Homo sapiens: one gene and its partner. The protein of the gene in region 2 purifies or fractionates together with the protein of the main gene of each other region. This does not show direct contact. Each region holds a gene or a part of one and is shown on either strand. Other genes may lie near its edges.

Region 1 (7,024 bases), on a different chromosome or scaffold from region 2:
ATCTGTATTTCCTAAATTATTGCTATTAGACTGAATGTTAAGAAGGCTTCAATTGGCGAAAGATCCACCTCTGACTAGACCACACCGTGCATAGAACCAGCTATTGTTTGACAAAATAGAAAGGACCAATTTTAGTAATTCAGAGAAACTAACTCATGCCCTTCTAAAACCAGATCAAATAATTGTTAAGTCTTTAGTCTGATATAATAATTATCTTCAGGCCAAACCTGACTATCTGAACAGAAACAGATATTTTGCCACCAATGCACCTCACCACTGCCTACAGTCTGTTTATCATTAGAGAAACAAAGATGGTCAAGTGACATCCCTAGAGTCTGATCATAATTCAGAAACAAAGGTAAGGCTCTTTCCCTGCTTACTTGTCCAGCCCTGTCTTCCTTAGACCACCCCACATTTCCTCTCCTATTCAAAGATAGAGTCTGGAGTGTGCTAGTATAAAAAATCAGCTCATCCATCTAATAGAAAAATACACATTAGGAGAGAAATGGGAAAATATGGAATAGGAAACAGTTTGTAAAAAATCACCATCTCTTAGATAGAAACCCTTTAAGAGGCCATTGTTGAATAGGTAGTAACTCCCAGGACAACTGAAGGGGGTAAAATAATATCCTCTTGGTCATCAATAGGTAAAATTTGCCTTTACATTTTGTACATTCAATTCTAAAAGTATTTTATTTAATTAAAAGGAAACCTTCCAATTTTCTACCACTAAAAATCGGGAAAGTGACAACAATTGCCTTTGTTGTTCGAGGTGTCCTCTGGTCTTGGGTCCTGATCTGCCGAAAATTCCCTCCCTGCCCCCAGGCACATTGGTTTTGTAAATGCCTGAGTGTGGCACCCTGTGGGAAAGATGAGGCTTTGTATGAATGCATTGTTAAGGCAGGTCTTGGGGAACCGTGCACGGGGACATAATAGCAGACTTCTGATCTCTAGTTTGCATTGATCTTACATTTAGACACAGATTCAGAAGAACAGACCCTCCCTTTTCCAGTGCCTTCGGAAAGATTGCCGCTCCGTAGAATGAGTCCTTTCTCCTCCACCCTTAATCTACAACCCAGCTTCCCCGGGAGATCCTACTTTGATTTCCGATCCTCACCCCACCAGCTGAGCTTGCATTCCTCTTTACAGTCTCTCAATGCACCGGGTGAGCTGAGCTCCTCAGACCTTTCCCCTTGATCTCTGTGCCTTGAAGGCATCTCTGAAACGCGTGTCTTGTTCTTGCCATTCATGTGCGTGGTGAGGGGGATGAGCTAGTCTCTGTCTGTGGCCTGCTTTCCGTATGAGGAGCATCGGGATGGTGGAGCTTTGTGGCGTTCTTGTTTGTGTGGTGGAAGGAGCAACCATGGAGCTGTGGTCCATGTATTACGGCATTAGAAAGTGATGAGTGAAGTTATTCTTTTCGCACAAGCTGGTACCACCATGGATAACCCGCTCTGTCATCACATGCAGTGGCATAGCACGGCACGGGCGCTGGCTGAGTGGCGGCCATGGCAGTAATGTGGAGGTTTGCAGCCCTTCTGTATCCAGGAAACCAGCAGTGTCTGGGAGACTGGATCAGTGCATCCAGCCTGGAGTGGTCTGATTAAACATAGACTCAAGAGATCTTTATTGACAAAGTACAATAAAAGTAAAAACACACCAACAGCAGAAAGCATCCTATAAAGCAGGCAATCCAGAGAGCAGAAAGTGAAAGCATTTTCTGCAAAAGCCTGTGCTCACTGCTAGGACAGTGGGGCTCATGGCTGAGTGTTTTCCTAGCAATGGGGTGGGATCACTGCTAGCCGAATTAGAAACCCTTAACTCCTAATGCCTAATGACCAAAGATCTGAGTAATCAAAAAGTCTGGACTCCTCGAAGTTTCCCACAGCCAAGCTGGTTGTGACAGAGCCTAAGGCTGATTTCAGCAAAGCTAGACTTGTGTTCCTTTGTAGCGAACACTGCCTAGCAAATAGAATGTTAAAATATATAAGATGCAGACCTATTTGATCTCTTCAGGACTATATTGTAATCATGGATACACATGATGCACATTTCATATTTCCAAAGGTTTCTTTTGGTTTTTATTTTATTCTTTTTGCTCATCCCACATTCTGGAATGAAGAAGGCCACAGCATGACAGTGCAAAAAGGATGCAGGGACTTCAAGCTGTCTTTAAAATGACATTCTTCTTTGTGCTTTTATGTTTCTTATTGTTTTTCTGTGCACTATGGCTTCCCAACATGCTTTGTTATGAAACTCTTTTCCCTTGTGTCTAATGTACTGAAATATCGTTACAGTCTTTGTAATGCACATTGTCTCAAGAATAAAATGAAATGTGAGTTTTGGGATATTTGATGGGTGTATTTAAGAGCATTATTCTAGCTGTATTGTTGAATCTTAAATGTATGATAATGTATTTAAAGTAGTGTAAAAAGATTTCAGAATATTTGTTTTGAAAAAGAGTTGCACAAGGCATGATTCATTTAAAAGTTTTTAAAGCCCTATTCAGATTCTACAAACTTATTTCCAAGCTGAATATGAGAGTCGGTTTTAAAACTCCAGGTATTCCATAGTCACTATGCTCTAACACATGAATAGGAATTGAAGTGATAATTGATAGAAACAAAACATAAAAATCAGCCATGAGATGGGAGGAAACGATTCTTTTGCATGTGAATTCATCCCAGAGAAAAGCAAACTAACCAAAAGTAAGATCATAATTTTTATATTTTGTTTTTAACTCAGCCATTAGTCCTTTTTTATAGTAAGTTGCTTTTTTAATTCTTGTAAAATTCTTTTAAGTCAGCACATTATCCTGCAAATGTTTTAGGAATTAGCATATAAAGGCCTTACTAAATAGAAAAGAAAATAAAATGATCCTTTCTTTATCCCCCAGTGTTCATCAAAACCACATTTTCTAGATCAGTCCTTGAAACCACTGGAAATTGTAGGTCACACACTTTTGAACATTTTAAGACTAGGCAGTCTTCCTCCACACAATGTAATTTCTCATGGGGTACAGGTATCCAAATCTTAAGGAAGGGAGATGGTTGAAAAAGTTCCACAGGGGATTCCAATGTATCTCTGAGACCACACCCACTCCTACCATCCCTCCTCCCCTCCCTCAGGTGAGAAGGATCTTGTCTCCTAAGAAGGAAAGGAGGCAGTTTTAACACATTCGTCATGTCATTATTAATAATTATTAATAAGATGTATGTATTCACAAATGGATTACATTACACATTTAGTTATATTTAATTTGGGCTCAAGTCACAATGAAGACCTTTTGGCATAACCAGAGTTAGAAGTGCATAGAATAGTGAGAGCAGAGTTTTATCAAAATCCAGTGATTTCTCCGTTGCAATTAAGTACATTTTCCCCATTTTTAAAACAGCTAGCCTTCTTACTGTGGAAACTTTAGAGGAAAAGATTGAACTTGGAAGATGAAAAATTCAGCTACAGAGTTTAGGATCAATTGGAGGAGGATTTATTAAATGGTAAAAAGATGTGCTTTTCATTTTGAAAGAGCAGAGGGGCAGTTTTTTACCCAACAAACTAAATAATATAAAAAGGGCTTTGTTTTTTCATGGATCAGGCCTCTGGTATCTATATTCAACTGGTGCTTTTTAAGCGTATACAAGTAATTTTTATCAACCTGGTTGTTGTTTCATAGCGTTGATGTGTAGTATCTCTTTATAGGATGCAATTTTGAGACACAATCTGCACCTTACTCTCAATTAGGCAAGTATACCTATTGTAATTATCTTTTACTTACGTGATTGGTGTGCTCAATTTCCTTCACAAAATAAATGGCGGCAACTTGTCTTATGTCAATAAAATTGTCTAATTGTCATTCTAACCCTATTATAGCAGTTTCTCAAACTCTTAAAAAATGGAAAAGATGCCTGTAGTGTTTAATGTTATGCCTCAAACCTTACTTTTCCCCCAGTTTTCTTTTACATCAGTGCAAAGCACTCTTTATGAGCACTAAATGTGGGTAAAGGTACAAGTCAGAGAGCACCTGTTTAGTATATGTGGCATTTTAAATTGAGTCCTTTTGGGGTACTAGTCTATCAAGAGAGACACATTTTCTTATCCATGTCAATTTTGCTTCCTATCTCTCTCCCCCATGCCTTTCACTTGGAATGACAACAGTTGACATTAAAAAGCTGTTGGCAGGTATGGAATAACCTTATTCTGTTACCAAATAGCAAAGACCAAAGTGCATGTGAGGTGTCTCACAGGTTTAATAAATCAGCAATTACATCTCTCGAGTGTGATATTTATAGGTGGCATTTAGAACTTGGGGCGTAACAATGCGTACAAAGACATCATTCTATCTGCACCTAATGTCCGAAATTCCTACTGCTCCAGCAAAATTTCTGACGTGTTAGTTTCAGGAGTAGCACGCAAACTGTGTTTTTTAAGTTATGCAGACAGCAACCTGTCCTACATGCAAGTCACAATCACTCATGAAAATTAGTTTATGTTGCTTATAGCTTCGCAGCTTGTGAGCTTTCACTAGAGCCGAGGAAGACTTCAAAGCGACTAGATGTTAGCACTTCTGCCGAAGGGATATTTCCTGATTTCACTCCATGTGTTTTATCCCTCCTCCATCTAGGACTCTAGCTCCTAGCCTCCCCGCCTCAGGGGTTACACAGGCATCTTAGCGCATCCCCTCTCCCTTTATGTCTCTGGTGCACTGTTCTGCCAGTCACCAGGTGAAGGGACTTGCACCTTCCAAAATCGATGCCACTTCACTCCCGGATCACCTGGTTGGGAGTGCAGTCTGAGCCAGGTAACCCCTGCTGAATCGGTCGTGTGTCCTCCGTCTGCTTCTGGTGCAGAGAGTACCAACTCCCAGGACGTGCCCCTGTCTGCCCTGGCCCTGGACGCCTCCTTCCTGCATGGCAGCATGAAAACGCTACACAACGCTCCTCACCCGCCCAGGAGTATGTTATGGTGCTGAGCTTGTTGGGTCTGTCTTAATAACCTGATTCCCTTCTGTTGTTCCCAGTGGCCTGGTTTGCTTTCGACCCTGGCTCGGCGCACTCGGACATCATCCTCTCCAATGACAACCTGACAGTGACCTGTAGTAGCTATGATGACCGGGTGGTGCTAGGGAAGACTGGCTTCTCCAAGGGCATCCACTACTGGGAGCTCACGGTAGATCGCTATGACAACCACCCTGATCCTGCCTTTGGTGTGGCTCGCATGGACGTGATGAAGGATGTGATGTTAGGAAAAGACGACAAAGCTTGGGCAATGTATGTGGACAATAACCGGAGCTGGTTCATGCACAACAACTCGCACACCAACAGGTACCCTGCAGCCCCCAAACCAAGCCTTCTTCACGTTGGCTTCTGATCAGGAGTGAGAGCCCCAGTTCAAAAACCTATTACATAGACCACATTCAGGAAATCAAACAGGTGGTCTACATTAAGTAGCACAGGCAATCTATGAGCCTCAGCTGAGTCCATGCTGGTGGTTTACTTTCTATATAATGATAGAGACTTGAGTACTTTCCTACTCCCTTCATTGCTGTATTTCACCCATGGCTGGAAACTAAGAATCCCAATGGATATCCATTATAAGAAAACAATCCAGGATGCTGAAACACCCAGACCTACAACTTAACAGAAAAGCACTTTTGGGCAAGTTACTTCGTTTTTTGAACCTCAGTTTCCAAATCCATCAAATTAGTACAATAAAATTTTTCCTTGTGGGAATCTTCTGAAGATTAAATGAAATATGTGAAAATGCCTTACATTGGAAGCACCTGAAAATAGTAGCCATTCTTCTTATTACGATTCATTAAACTAAAGCTTATGGATGCCAATTTGAATGGCTTTCTACTTATAGAGAACTCTCTTATTACTGTATTAATCCAGAGCAGCCAGTTTGCTAAGGAAAGGAAATACAGTAATCTCCTTGAGGTTTTCTTCTACCACCAAAATATAGATCATTATAATTGAACACATACTATAATGGATTTCCTTTCTCATTTGATTGTGTTCCTCAAATGTATTTTTCACAAATTTCCTAGGCAGAGAAATTTCTACTGTGGACCCTGGTCCACCTTATGCTCCAAGATTTCCCCAGGATACATTCTCATTAGTGTCTCTGAAAAAAAAAAAAAATACAGTAGTGTTCAACCAGATCAAAGGGAAAGCAAGTCAGACATTGGTAGGATAATTGGACCCCACTGTTTTATCTTTTTCTGTATGCTCATCACTGACCCTTCTCCAGCCTGTAGACTCCTAAAGCCTCCTTTTCCCTTGGATAGCTTCTATAGCATTCAAGTGTGTATTATTCGCTGTCACTTGAAGTGAACACACACACCATTTCACCATGAAAGCAAATCCTACTGGATGTAGATAAGTGGTTATCTTCAGTGATCGGCATTTTGTGGAACTCTCTGTCAATAGATTCTCAGTGCTATCACCCAAATGCCACACTTACTTTTTCCCTTTTAGCGTCTTTGTTTTGAAGTGCAGGAGTGAATAATGACATAACCATCACACTATGCAGAGAAACACATTCTTAATGCTGAACACATCTGCTTGCATGCAACCTGCATGTCACTTGTGCTTTCATTGTTAAACCTGTGAAGTAGCAAGAGGCAATTTGTAAACCTGTCTTTTAATGACTATGTACAGTCTGTATCCTGCATGCAAGAGGAAATGAATGACACAAATTCCTGTGCTCTGCTGAGATGAGGACGAAGTTCAATATTGCTAGATCTCAAAAAAATGGGAAAGACAAATCTGATCGTCCATTTTTAATGGCATTTTGTGAAACCATCAATTGAAGCATAAGACACAATTCTTTGTAAAATGGCATTTGTATGCAGGTTCTTTAAAATCACTACATCTCAGAGTATAATTATTTCACTGTACAGAGAAGAAGCCTCTTCTTCAGTGCTGTCATTTCACAGACAGCCTCCAAGTTCTTAATTCAAATGCAACAAGCCAAAAAACTGCTATCCTTCTGGAATGAGTTTTTCTGTTTAATGGATAACATA
Region 2 (7,548 bases):
AATTGTGAGCAAATAATAAAATGATTGCAGCCATTTTTTTGCAGGTGCAGTGGCTCATGCCTGTAATCCCAACACTTTAGGATGCTGAGCCAGGCAGATGGCTTGAGCCCAGGAGTTCAAGACCAGCCTGGGCAACGTGATGAAACCCTGTCTCTACCGAAAAATATAAAAATTAGCTGCACACCTACAGTTCCAGCTACTAGGAAGGTTAAGGTGGGAGGATTGCTTGAGGCCAGGAGGCGGAGGTTGCAGTGAGCTGGGATCGCGCCACTGCGCTCCAGCCTGGGCGACAGTGTAAGACTCTGTCTTTAAAAAAAAAAAAAAAAAGTTGCTGTTTGAAGCCATTACATTTTATGGTGGTTTTTAGCAATAGACAGCCAAAACACCTTTTCCTTGTCCCCATATTCCCTTATTCCCTCTCTCTGTTAAGTTCCATCAATTTTACCTCCAGAATATCCTAAACCTACTCTCATCTCTGACACTATCTGACTCTCAAACTACCATCCACTTTCACTGCAGTAGCCTTCTCGGTTAAAGTGGTCTCTGTGCACTTACACAGCCCCACTCCAATCTGTATACCTCACTGCAACCAAAGAGATCTTTTCCAAGCATAAATTGGATCACGTCATCCTCTTGCTTAAAATATTTCAGTAGCTTTCTTTTGTCCCTAAAATAAAAATCACCAAAATCCTTAGCATGGCCTACCTTGCTTAGCAAGGCTCTGCCAAGTTCTTGGTCTCTACCCACTACCCAAGCCCCCTCTTGCCCTATAATCTTTTTCTTTTATGCCATGCTACCCTTTAATTACTACACTCTACCAGCCCCTTTTGCCCCAGGGACTTTGTATACACAAAGTATACACTGCTTCCTCTTTCTGGTATCCCTACCTACTCATCTGCCCCTACCCTCTTTGCTAAGTGCTTCCTAGTTACCTTAATAGGCTTCAGCTCAAACATCACTTCCTCACAGAAGCTTTCCCTTGCACAGAATCTTAGCCCCACCTGGCTAAGTTTCTCTTTAGATTTATCTGGTTGTTTGATTATTGTCTGACTTTTCCCACTAGACTAAGTTCCTGACTGGTTTTACCTGAAATGAACCTTGAAGGGAGTGGTGCCCCATCTGTCATAAGGATTTGCTCTAGAAGTGCAGCCCAAATTCTTTGACACTACTCCCATTGAAAGGTGGTGGGGTAGGGGGAGGAATCTGTGTGTCCTCCTCTGGAATCTAGACTCTGACTCCTTGACCAATAGAATACAGCAAAAATGACACTATGCCAGGTATCAGGCCCAGGCCTTAAGAAACTGGCATCTTCCATTTTCTGTCACTTTGAATGATTATCTTTAACCCAGTCTTCATGCTATCAGAAAGTCCAGGCAGCCTATGGAGAGGAACCAAGACCTTTGGTCCTCAGCCCTAGCAGAGCTCCCAGCTGACAGCACCAACTTGCCAGTCACGTGAGTGAGCCATGTTGGAACTGGAACTTCTAACTCCCCGTTGAACCATCCCAGTTCACACTGCATGGAGCAGAGATAAGCTTTCACCATTGAGCCTTGCCAAATTCCAGATTCATGAACAAAATGATTTTTTTCAATGACTTAAAAAAATTGGGGGGTGGTTTATTATGCACCAATAGATAACCAGAACATCAGCCAAAATGACAAGCCTGTGCAGAAAGGCAACCCTTCCCTGGCAGGATCACAGAGCTGTTTGTGATGTCATGTCATCCTGAGTCTCACTGAGTCCTGGTTGACCAGGAGCCCAAAGTGCCTTTCAACATATAGAGGAGTCTGTGGCAGTGCCCAACCAGGGTGACCACCCCTCATGTCCATGCCAGGAAGCAGGTGCAGACCTGGATCCAGGGTTCTCTCTTGTTCATAAGCTTCCACCCCCAGGTGGCTGCTGGAGCCTACTGCTCTCCAGGGTTTTGCCCCAAGTACGCAGAGAGCAGCCTGTTCCAGCTGGTGAAGGTGGATGTTGGATATCAAGGGACATCAAGCAGTGCCTCATGAAAGATCCTAGGGAGGAAGTGCAGTTCTTGGGGAAGGCTCAGGAATCACTGCCCCAGAAGAATGTGCAGCTTTGTGAAGGGTGATTCAGGTGAACATTCACATTTGGTACACCAAGTTCTGAGAGGGTCTGTGCTGAGGCACACAACCTACACAGTGCCCTCTAGGCACACACTTTCCAGTACAGTAGCCAGTAGCCACACATGGCCATTTAAACTAAAAATTTAAAAATTTTAAAGAGCCATGATTAAGGTGATCTTCAGAAAATAATAAAAAATTTAAAGCAATTTCTCAGTCACATGAGCTACGTTTCAACTGCTGAAGAGCCACATGTGGCTAGTGGCTATTGAATAGTGCAGCTGTAGAACATTTTCATCACTAGAAGTTCTATTGAACTGTATTGTTCTAGGCCCTTTAACAGAGGTCGGCCGGGCACAGTGGCTCACGCCTATAATCCCAGCACTGTGGGAGGCTAAGGTTGGCCGATCACCTGAGGTCAGGAGTTCGAGACCAGCCTAGCCAACATGGTGAAGCCCCGTCTCTACAAAAATACAAAAAAATCACCTGGGTATGATAGCAGCTGCCTGTAATCCCAGCTACTGGGGAGGCTGAGTTGGGAGAATCGCTCAAACCTGGGAGGCAGAGGTTGCAGTGAGCCAAGATTGCTCCACTGCACTCCAGCCTGGGCGACAGAGCAAGACTCCATCTCAAAAAAAAAAGAAAAGAAAAAAAGAAAAAAAAAAGAGAACATGGTGAAACCCTATCTCTACTAAAAATACAAAAAATTAGCCGGGCATGGTGGCGGGCGCCTGTAGTCCCAGCTGTTCGGGAAGCTGAAGCAGGAGAATGGTGTGAACCCCGGTTGGGGCAGAGCTTGCAGTGAGCCAAGATCGCACCACTGCACTCCACCCTGGGCATCAGAGCAAGACTCCGTCTCAAAAAAAAAAAAAAAAAAAAAGAGAGAGAGGTCAGCAGAGATGGCCTTGTCTCCAAGTCCATGAAAATAAACGCAAGAAACAAAACAAGGGCTCCCGCTGAGAGAACCACAGGGATGGCCAAGTTTGTCAGGCCCCCCGGGGGGTTTTGGGGAGCGGCTTGAATGACTTACCCTGAGCTTTCTGCCTCCTTTCATAGTCACTGGTAACTTTTTTTCCAAACTCCTTGTTAGTATAGTCATTTCCTACTTGGGGGTATCAAATTCCATAACTTCCACCCATGACGTGCAACACAAATGCAGCACAACATCCTGGTTAAGAACATGAACTCCAGGCCCAGCGCGGTGGCTCATGCCTGTAATCCCAGCACTTTGGGAGGCCGAGGCAGGCGGATCACCTGAGGTCAGGAGTTCGAGACCAGCCTGGCCAACATGGTGAAACCCCGTATCTACTAAAAATAAGAAAATTAGCCAGGCGTGGTGGCGGGCGCCTGTAATCCCAGCTACTTGGGAGGCTGAGGCAGAAGAATCCCTTAAACCCGGAAGGTGAAGTTTGCAGTGAGCCGAGATCACGTCCCTGCACTCCAGCCTGGGCGACAGAGCGAGACTACATCTCAAAAAACAAACAAACAAAAACACGGACCCTGGAACCAAACTGCCCATAGCAGAACTCCGTTCCACAACTTACTAGAGTGACCTTGGGCAAGTTATTCATTCTCATTCTCATAGAGCCTAGGTAAAAAGGGGCTGATAGGAGTTCCATGAGGGTCACATGAAATAATATAAACATAACGGTGCCACGAAATAGTGAACACAATATATATTCGCTCTGATGTTCTCCAAACCTAATCTTATTTGGGTTTCCAAGAAAAAAAAAAAAGCCTTCAATAGAGACTTGGTGAGTGTGCGTAATCACCGTATCCTTCCCTGACTTCATTTTACTAAACTCTCCTCCTTCAAGCCCTCTTCAGTCCTCCTAATCTCTTCAGGGTCCTCCTCCTCGGGTGGTGGCACATGACTCTAGTGCAGACTCTAGTGCCCAGAGCCTGGTATCAGAGTATGAAGACTTTGATCTCAGGTGTAGCCATTCTCATTTTTTATCTTCGTCTATCTTCCGTGCTTAGGCTTAGGACCCCTAAGTACTAAGTGTGTTCCAGGAGGCTGGAATCTCATACAATGGAGGAAATTTGGAGATTAGGATAAAGATTTGGAGAAAGAGGCATGAGAAGCTAAAGATGCAGGAGTTGCCTATGCTGGCTCTTGCTTCGTGGTCATGCAGTTTAACAGGCCCTGGGTGAAGGCTGAGGGCTGCTGTTTTGAGTGTTGCCTGCTCGCAGGCAAGGAAAGTACAAGCCGGGCCCTGCCGGCTTCTCAGGACTGCGTGAGAAACAGAAGACGCAATAAAAGCGCAATTTCCTGTAAACTTAAATGCCTTAAGGGTTGTCAGCAGTTTCCCCGCTCCAGGCGGCTCCTTTAAGAGGCGGCCCCTCGCCCCGCTAACATAGGAAGTCCCCGCCCCCCGTTGCCAGGGTGCTCTGTGGCGTCGCATTCTCATTGGTGGGCGACGGCGAGGATCACCCCCGAGGCAGCCATTTCCAACTAGCTGGCGGGGGCGGAAGATGGCGACGCCCCTCGGGTGGTCGAAGGCGGGGTCAGGATCTGTGTGTCTCGCTTTAGATCAACTGCGGGACGTGATTGAGTCTCAGGAGGAACTAATCCACCAGCTGAGGAACGTGGTATGCAGCCAGAGGAGTTTGGGGAGAGGCGGGGCCGGATGCCTCACTGGTGGGGGCGGGGCCAGAACCTGTTCCGATGCGGGGGCCGTGGCTAGAACGCATGGCCCATGGCGTCATCAGGAGGAGGCCGGGCTCAGTCGGTAGGGGTGGAGCCAAAAAGGGGCGGACCTTCCTGAACCAGGGAATTTTAACTAAAATCAAGCCATATTCTCCCTTCCGTTTGCCTGGTTGCTGCAAGAGCTGGTAGAGAGTCCCTGAGCCTCAGTTTCCCCATTTTCAGTGGAGATGACGTCACTGAGTTCCCATGGCCCTCCTGTGCAGGCAGAGAAACTGTCATCCCTTCTATTATGGACACCATTCCCGAGAGTCAAAGGCAGTGCCGTGTTGAATGCAGTAAGCGCAGATTTGGCCCTTGCCAGCGCTAACTTAGGGGCCTCCAAGAACTTTACATGCCTTAGCTTTTGCCTTCTCAATCAAACCCCAGCTAATGGGTGCAAAGCATTGCAGTCACAGATTACCTGGGTAGGCATGATAGAATCCTGGCCATCTGGAGTTCATGGTTTTTCTGGTTTTGTTTTCCTGTCTTGATAAGAAGGTTAGGATGTATCTCCATCTCAGAAATAAAACTGGCTTCACATCTACTTCTCATTCTAAGTTGTTCTTAGACAATTTCTTCCCTTCTGGGAAGTTGAATGTGGGGGAAAGGGGAGAGAGACCTGTCCTATTTGCTACCCTAATGCTCTCATTCAACAAAATATATGGAGCTCTAGGCACTGAATTGCCTTTGATTCCCTGAAGGTACCCAGGTCTTCCTCTTGGCAGCTGACCTTGGCATGTGTGTCCCCACCATCCAGAGTGCTTTTCTCTCTATCCCTCTTCTGGCCCACCCTATATAGCAGTCAGATCTCAGGTCTAACATCCCCTTCTCCGGAAGTGATTCTGACCCTTCCCCAGGCTGGGTTGGGGCCTCCTCTGAGCCCCAGATCCCCTTATGTCTCCCCATCAAGGCACACAACATGTTAGAAGTGCTAACTGTGGACTGCCTCCTCCATGAGACTGGCTGCTCCTTGAGGGCAGCACTTAGAGCTGAGTCTCAGTTTATCTGTGGAACTGAATTCTCCCTTCCCAAGGCCTCAGTCTCATCCTAGGTACCACGAGCATCATCCTGTTATCCGCTTTTGGTCCTGGTCCCTAGAGGGCGCCCCTTCTACTCCAGCCCCAGGCCCTCCCTCAGCCAGGCTCTGTTGCAGATGGTTCTCCAGGACGAAAATTTTGTCAGTAAAGAAGAGTTCCAGGCAGTGGAGAAGAAGCTGGTGGTAAGTAATGGCCTCTGCGGTCTCCTAATCTTCCCCCGTTTCCCAGGATCCCTGTGGTTAGGCAGGCTCATTAAGTATTAGCCTCTGATGGGTGCAGTGGCTCACAACTGTAGTCCCAGCTCTTTGGGAGGCCAAGGCGGGCAAATCACTTGAGGTCAGGAGTTCGAGACCAGCCTGGCCAACATGGTGAAACCCTGTCTCTACTAAAAATACAAAAAAATATATATATACATATATATATATTAGCCAAGCATGCGTGGTGGCAGGCGCCTGTAATCCCAGCTACTTGGGAGGCTGAGACAGGAGAATTGGCTTGAACCCAGGAGGTGGAGGTTGCACTGAGCTGAGATCATGCCACTGCACTCCAGCCTGTGCAACAGAGTGAGACTCTGTCTAAAAAAAAAAAGAAAAAAGAAAAAAGAAAGGTCGGCCTCTGAGAACCTCCAGCCCCTGTAGCAAGGTGGCCAGAATCTCCCTGTGCTCTGGCTTCTGTGTGTCCCTCTGAGAAGGGGGGCTGGTTAAGGGAGTCTAGGAGACCCAAGGCGGCCTAGGGTAATGAGGTGACTGCTGCTGCCCCTGCAGGAAGAGAAAGCTGCCCATGCCAAAACCAAGGTCCTCCTGGCCAAGGAAGAGGAGAAGTTACAGTTTGCCCTCGGAGAGGTAGAGGTGCTATCCAAGCAGCTGGAGAAAGAGAAGCTGGCCTTTGAAAAAGCGTGAGTGGGCCTCAGTACGGGGTGTGGGGTTTGGGGGATGCATCTGCTTGCTAGCCTGCCCACCCTCCCATCTTATCTTCCCCACCCAGGCTCTCCAGTGTCAAGAGCAAAGTCCTTCAGGAGTCCAGCAAGAAGGACCAGCTCATCACCAAGTGCAATGGTAGGCGGGAGGCCCGTGCTCTCCACCACGGTTATATAAACGGGCTCTTTCCTAACCACCCAGTGCCTGTGTCAAAGGCAGGGTTTCACTCTAACACCTGTCCCCAGCTGAGGATACAGGCAGGCCCGGGTGGGCCACACCTTCGAAAAGGCCTTAAGGGACCAGGCAGGCCACGGAAATGAGGGAAGCAGTCGGTGTACTATATTCTTCACCGCCATAAAGGAATGGGCTTGCTCCCATTTTTCCTGAAACATACAACCTTCTTAGTCCACCTTTTGTTTTCCCACTTTTGATGGGTTACTCCTAACTGATACAAGAGGAACACAGGGCAAGCACTGTCCTATTTGGGACCTGATCCTTAGTCTCAGGGTCAGGACTCAATAGGGAAGGATGCATGTGGTGACAGGGGGCTAGGATTGCCAGATCTTTAAAATGGAAACTAAGAGTTATTTTTATTTTTCTAAGACTGGGTGTCACTATGCTGCCCAGGCTGGTCTCAAATGCCTGGGCTCAAGTGATTCACCCACCTCAGCCTCTCAAGTAGCTGGGACTACAGGTGTGAGCCACCATGCCCAGTGAAACCAAGTTGTTTTATTTTTTTTGAGATGGAGTCTTGCTCTGTTGCCTAGGTTGGAGTGCGGTGGCACACGGCTCACTGCAACCTCCATCTCCTGGGTTCAAGT

What was found. The genes of interacting proteins can lie anywhere in the genome.
Region 1: the proteins of SPATA24 (region 2) and TRIM9 purify together in Homo sapiens (affinity purification with mass spectrometry; 2 studies listed by BioGRID and IntAct, with this or other methods). This does not show direct contact.

What each region holds. Positions count from the first base shown.
Region 1 is NC_000014.9:50,980,097-50,987,120, reverse strand, and holds part of TRIM9 (E3 ubiquitin-protein ligase TRIM9), read left to right. Parts: intron 1-954; exon of another isoform or gene 955-976; coding exon 977-1,165; coding exon of another isoform or gene 1,166-1,197; exon of another isoform or gene 1,198-3,699; coding exon 3,700-3,741; exon of another isoform or gene 3,742-3,839; intron 3,840-4,155; coding exon 4,156-4,179; intron 4,180-4,621; exon of another isoform or gene 4,622-4,798; intron 4,799-5,017; coding exon 5,018-5,321; intron 5,322-7,024. UniProt on the Homo sapiens protein: E3 ubiquitin-protein ligase which ubiquitinates itself in cooperation with an E2 enzyme UBE2D2/UBC4 and serves as a targeting signal for proteasomal degradation.
Region 2 is NC_000005.10:139,401,072-139,408,619, reverse strand, and holds the start of SPATA24 (spermatogenesis-associated protein 24), read left to right. Parts: upstream 1-4,530; 5' UTR 4,531-4,559; coding exon 4,560-4,676; intron 4,677-5,871; exon of another isoform or gene 5,872-5,926; coding exon 5,927-5,992; intron 5,993-6,574; coding exon 6,575-6,705; intron 6,706-6,794; coding exon 6,795-6,865; intron 6,866-7,548. UniProt on the Homo sapiens protein: Binds DNA with high affinity but does not bind to TATA boxes. Synergises with GMNN and TBP in activation of TATA box-containing promoters and with GMNN and TBPL1 in activation of the NF1 TATA-less promoter.